2 separate regions of the Homo sapiens genome follow, and region 1 is linked to region 2. A link means that fine-mapping ties the variant in region 2 to the expression of a gene that starts in the linked region. Tissue or cell type: whole blood. Region 2 holds a variant in brackets; the other region holds the start of a gene. All regions are shown on one strand. Distances are from middle to middle.

Evidence for each region. PIP is the estimated chance that this variant, and not a neighbour inherited with it, causes the effect.
Region 1: it holds the start of SLC35D1, and the variant in region 2 is fine-mapped to the expression of SLC35D1 in whole blood (TOPMed, PIP 0.94).

Annotation. Positions count from the first base shown.
Region 1 is chr1:67,053,108-67,055,796 of GRCh38, forward strand. SLC35D1 (solute carrier family 35 member D1) reads right to left here and starts at 1,041. Exons shown (of 12, transcript NM_015139.3): 1 at 704-1,041. The coding sequence starts at 906. RefSeq lists silencers at 456-665, 956-1,145.
Region 2 is chr1:66,985,024-66,987,712 of GRCh38, forward strand. It overlaps MIER1 (MIER1 transcriptional regulator), which reads left to right. Exons shown (of 14, transcript NM_001077700.3): 14 at 1-2,689. It also overlaps a transcript of SLC35D1 not described here. Among named protein-coding and RNA genes, the nearest start is that of MIER1, 61 kb to the left of the region's middle. The variant A/G (reference allele first, on the strand shown) is at 1,124.

The sequences.
Region 1 (2,689 bases), 68 kb after region 2:
CCCCTAAATCAAACAAAAATCTTGGGAGAAAACTCTCTGCCTGTTGGTTGTCAGTCCACCCCGCTGATGTAGCCTCGGGCGGCCGCTTGTCCCATCTTGTCCGAGTCTACAGTTTCAGTCCGCTGCCTGCAAAGGATTTCTCAAGGCAGTGCAGATACAGATCTCTGCAACGATTTCACACACCTTAAAAAAAAAAACAACCAACTTCTGCCTCTGGGTCCCAGTGTTAGCAAGGGAATAATTGTCTGCTGGGTTGAGGATGCGTACGTCCCCAGAGGCTGTCAGCGGGTGCAGGGGACACTGAAGCCCCGGCCCCCTGTCCAGGCTGCGGAGGAGGGAGGCTTCCCTCGCTCTCCTCCCTGATCGACAGGCATAACGGCTCAAAAGTCACCAAGCAAATCACTTTGCTCCATCTCTCTGAAGGGCAGGGTTTTCGGGGCGGTGCGCCCAGGGCATGGCAGGCGAGCCCCAAATGTGCCGGGCCGGCCGGAGCTCCGCGCAGGGAGCGGACCCCTGCCACAGGCCCGCTCGCCAGGCCGGCTCCGCTGCCCGGGCCGCGCGCGTCAGCCGCCCGCCCTCCCCAGCTCCCGCCCAACTTTGTTCGGCTTTAACTTTGGCAGTCAAAGTCCAGGGAGCCGGCGCCGCGCCGCCGCCGCCGCCCGCTCCTCCTCCGCGGCCTGGGCCGCCGCCGCCTCGGCCCTACCTGTAATTGGTGAGCACGCTCTTATTCACCACCACGATCAGGAAGGAGCTCACGCCGTAAAAGCCGGCGGCCAGCAGCTTCAGAAACACGGTCAGCGTTTCGGCCGACGCCATCCCCAGCTCCTCCTCATCTCGGAGTGTGGAGGATTTCGCGGGGGCTTCTCCTTTAACCCGAGCATGCTGACGTCTATGAACTTCCGCCATGGCTGCCGCAGCAGCGGTGGCCTGGCGGCGGGGCCTAGCGGCTCGGGGGCCTGCAGCGGCAGCTCCCAGGGGACTCCAGGAGTTGGGGACCGCAGACTAGGCCAGCTGCGCGCTCGCCGCCTCGACTCCCCGCTTGGCCGCCGCCTGTCCCCGCCCAGGGGCAGGGACGCCGGGGTTCACACCCCTGGAGACTTTGCTCGGGCATTGTGCAACGCGGGGTCAGAGAGTAGGGCCGCGCCGGGCTTAGCCTGGGCAGGGGTTGGAGAGAGCCTGGAGAAGGGGCAGTGGCGACCCCCCTGCCCGAGGCGGATAAGGAGAAGCCAGGGGAACTACATCGAGACACCAGAGCGCCGGGCGACAAACCACAGACTCCGGGTGACAGTCGCCCTGCGCCTGCGCACGAGCACGCGCTGGGTCTCTCCGCGGGGCGCGTACCTGGGGCGTGGGGAGTCTGGTGGCAGAGGGGCTGGAAGGCCGTATTCTCCGGATAACTGCCGCAACTAAGTGCAGACCCTCCTCCCCTCTGTTACAGGTGGCCGGCCAAGTAGTTACAGTACACTGCGTCTAGACTAATTCTGAATGCTCTTTTAGTCTCTCTTGCAGGGGGTAAAAACCCTTCAAAAGTATCAGATGTGGATCAACAGTAAACACTCAACGAAAATTTCATTCCGCAATGCCTCAGGCTTCTTACATTTTCTGAACCCAGAAAACACCAAACAATACTTTTCAGATTGAGAAGTTTCGTTTGTTTGTTTTAAGAAAAATGTTGACATATCCCAAAAAGTAGCAAGATAAGCAGCTTGGGGATTGGGGAAAGCACAAGGTGTTTGGAGCCTAAAAGACTTGATTTCCAATTGTAGGATTCCTAGAAATGACGACCCCCCCCCCCCCCACCAACACACTCACTCCTTATTGTGTGTCTTGGACCAATTAGATGACCTCCCTGAACCTGATCTCTGTGGATGTGTAGCTAGCAAAGAGCTAGTTTTCGGTAAATGGTAGTCATTATTGTATAACAGAAGCAAATCATTATGATCGGTTTAAGCAAAGAAATTACGTATTGAACTTTAATAGATTAGGAAAGAAGAACTTTGAATTATTTTTCTAAGTGCTTGGTCTGTATCTTTTTAAATTTCTTTTTTTTTTTTTTCTTATTTTTATATTTTGGTAAACCAGGTATAGTGGTTCACACCTGTAATACCAGCACTTTGGGAGCAGGTGGAATGCCTGAGCCCGGGAGTTTGAGACCATGCTGGGCAACAAAGTGAGACCCTCTCTCTACAAGAAAATAAAAAAATTAGCCAGATGTGGTGGCGCACGCCTGTGGTCCCAGCTACTCAGGAGGCTGAGGTGGGAGGATGGCTTGAGCCCAGGAGGTCAAGGCTGCAATGAGCTATGATCATACTACTGCACTCCAGCCTGGGCAACAGCACAAGACCATCTTAAAGAAAGAAATAAATTGTGGCAAAATATACAAAGTATAAAATTTATCATTTTAACCCTTTTTGAGTATGCAATTGCATGGCATTAACTGCATTCACATCGTTTTGCAGCCATCATCACTAATCCATCTTTAGAACTTTTTCACCATCCCAAAGTGAAACTCTTTCCCCTTTAAACAATCACTCCCTGTTTCCCTACTTCCTTCCCTCTCTGCTGTTAACCAGTGTTCTACTTTCTGTCTCTGTGAATTTGACTACTCTAGGTACCTCATATAAGTGGAATCATGTAGTATTTGTCCTTTCGTGATGAACTTACTTCATTAACGTAATGTCTTCAAGGT
Region 2 (2,689 bases):
CTTTAGGAAATGAGGTTTCATAATTCTGCCTTTTGCAGATTTTTTTACTTTAAAGCTGTCAGACTCTTTTAAGGGTATTTTAAAAATTAGTAAATTTGAATGAACTAAAGATATATCTCTACCTTCTCATTTGAATATCTTTAGTTCATTCAGATTTACTAATTTTGGTAAATCTGAATGAACTAAAGATGTATCTGTACCTTCTCATTTGATGTATTAATCATAAAATTTCACTACAAGGTAATTTTTGCTTAGTTTGATGGATGAATGGGAAACTCAAGTCCAAATTTCTGCTTAATACCAATTTCTCTGAGTTTCTTGAAATGTCTTTAAAACAGACATTTTTCTCACCAAACAGTTTGAGTATCTTTATTAAGGAAACCCTTACGAATCCTGAAAATTATGCTAGCATGATTTTTTTATATATAGAAGTTTAAAAATAAACCAGGTCAGGTTTGTATATGTAAAATTGTTGACATCAATGATGTCTTTCCATATTCTTATCTGGGCTTAAGAAATACATTCTGTATTTTTCCAGATTCTTTGTAGCCTTTGAAAGATTTTTACAGTACATATGTCTTGACTGAGCTGTCCTTTCTTAATACAAAAGCGTGTATAATTTTCTTAACTTGTACAGTTGGTAAACTTTTATGAGAGGAATTGTTATTCTGAGTCTGTCAGCTTTCATTTTATTTTGCTAAGGTTTTTCTAATGAATTTTTAAGTGTTTGTGTAGTAATTAAGTCATATTTCTTATCCAGGTGGTTAAAGCATTCATAAAGGATTATAAAATTTTTTTTTTTTTTTTTTTTTTTAAATTTCTACTTAAGGGCAAGTAATTTGAGAATTCTGAAATTAAGCATGATGCTTAGATTGCAGTTTGTTTTGCATTTGCTATAATTTTCAAAATTATTTTTGAAGCAAGACAAAAGTTTAATGTCAGCTTAAGTGCTTAAATATATCATGCTGACCAGAATCCTGTTATTTTTATATGCATCATAAAATTTCCCATTTCTGCATTAAATAAACAGAGGAGGGGGGTCAAGTGATACTTAGATATTGGCACACACAAGGAACAACTGTTGGCAGGCAGTATCGATTTTATGAAGAGAAAGTGAAGTTTG[A/G]AAACTTTTCAAACTTTTCTAGTTACAATCCAATTTTTCAGATTTGATAATGCTTTTCCAAAGTGAAAATAAGATACACAATAATCATTGCTCTGTGTGATTACAGATAGGATTATCCATCTGCATAGCCTTGTAAAAGTGCCATTTTATTTTTAGTGCTAAATTCTTGTTAAATAATGTAGTTTTATATAGCTGATAGACCAACCTATATCCAAACTTTTATAAAATATTAATTATTCTTGTTTTTCTCACACAGGCATACTCCAAATGCTTCTTCCAGTTCATTTTTCAGCCATCAGTTCAAGAGCCAATGCCTTTTTAAAATAAAGCTTCTGTGGTCTTGTTTTTAATGGCTCAACTGTCTGATGTAATTGAGTGAAGGTTTGCACTGAGAAATTAGCATTCAGGCCTTACCCCCATGAAGTATTACTGTTAACATATGTTCGGACTGCTTCCCTTCACCAATGTGAACAACTTTTTTTCCCAAACAGTGTTAAAAGCCACTTTGCAACACTTGACTTCATCTTAATGTACATTCACTGTTGTTACATACATATCTAAGTAAATCAAAGTTTTGGGTGGAAGTGTTGAGAAGTATGAGTTTTTTGTTGTTTTTGTTTTACTTAAAACTTTTAATTTATCCAGAATGGCAGTAGCTTTAGCAAGCAGATGGTCACAATCTGTTTTCTAAATCATTTTTTATTAAATGAATCCAAAGTATCCTAGCTCTTTGTCAAAGATGGTCTGTAGAAATGTTTTTAAAGATTAGGGATGCTGTACTTTTTGAATTGTTGCAGTGTTGGAGATGCCATTTTCACCTTTTTAAAAAGATGCATTTTATTTGCAGGTTTGTGAAGTTCTTGCAAACTCTTACTACAGAAATGTTTTAAATACATTCTCAGGCATGTTTGCAAAAATATGGCACATGTATACATTTTAGGAAATGTTACTTTTGTTAATCTTTAAAAAATACACCTAATGAAAGACATTCCACTATTATGCGTAATGCTCAGCTTTTTGTAAAGAAATATTTAATTGTATTTTGTGTTTATACAGGTATTTCACACAATAATTTGTTCTTAATGCAGCCACTATAACTTGATAAGTCATTGCACTATTTAAAAAGTTTTAGTAATATCATGAATTTAATTTGCTTAAGATTTAGTACATTTCAGAACTTTTGAACTTTTGACAAATTGCATTGGAAAAAGAAGTCTGTTAATAGTGATTTAGTCTCCCCGCCTCATTCCCACCCCCAACAAAGCACTATCATTTTCATTTGGAATGGGTATTTTCTGTTTCATGATGTATTTTCAAATAGAGTTCAGGATCTGCAATTCAGTTCAACACAAGTTTGTTGAGCTTTAAAATGTATTTGAAGTAATATTTAAATAGGCATTTAAAATTTCAAATTAGATGTTAAATTTATGCATAGTAATTTTGCACTGTAAAATAATTCCCTTCTCCCATTCCTTGTCTGCCATTCTGAATATGCTTATTAAAATATTTTTTTAAACATATTTGCCTACATAATACTGTGTGAATATTTTCATTAGATTAATTCAC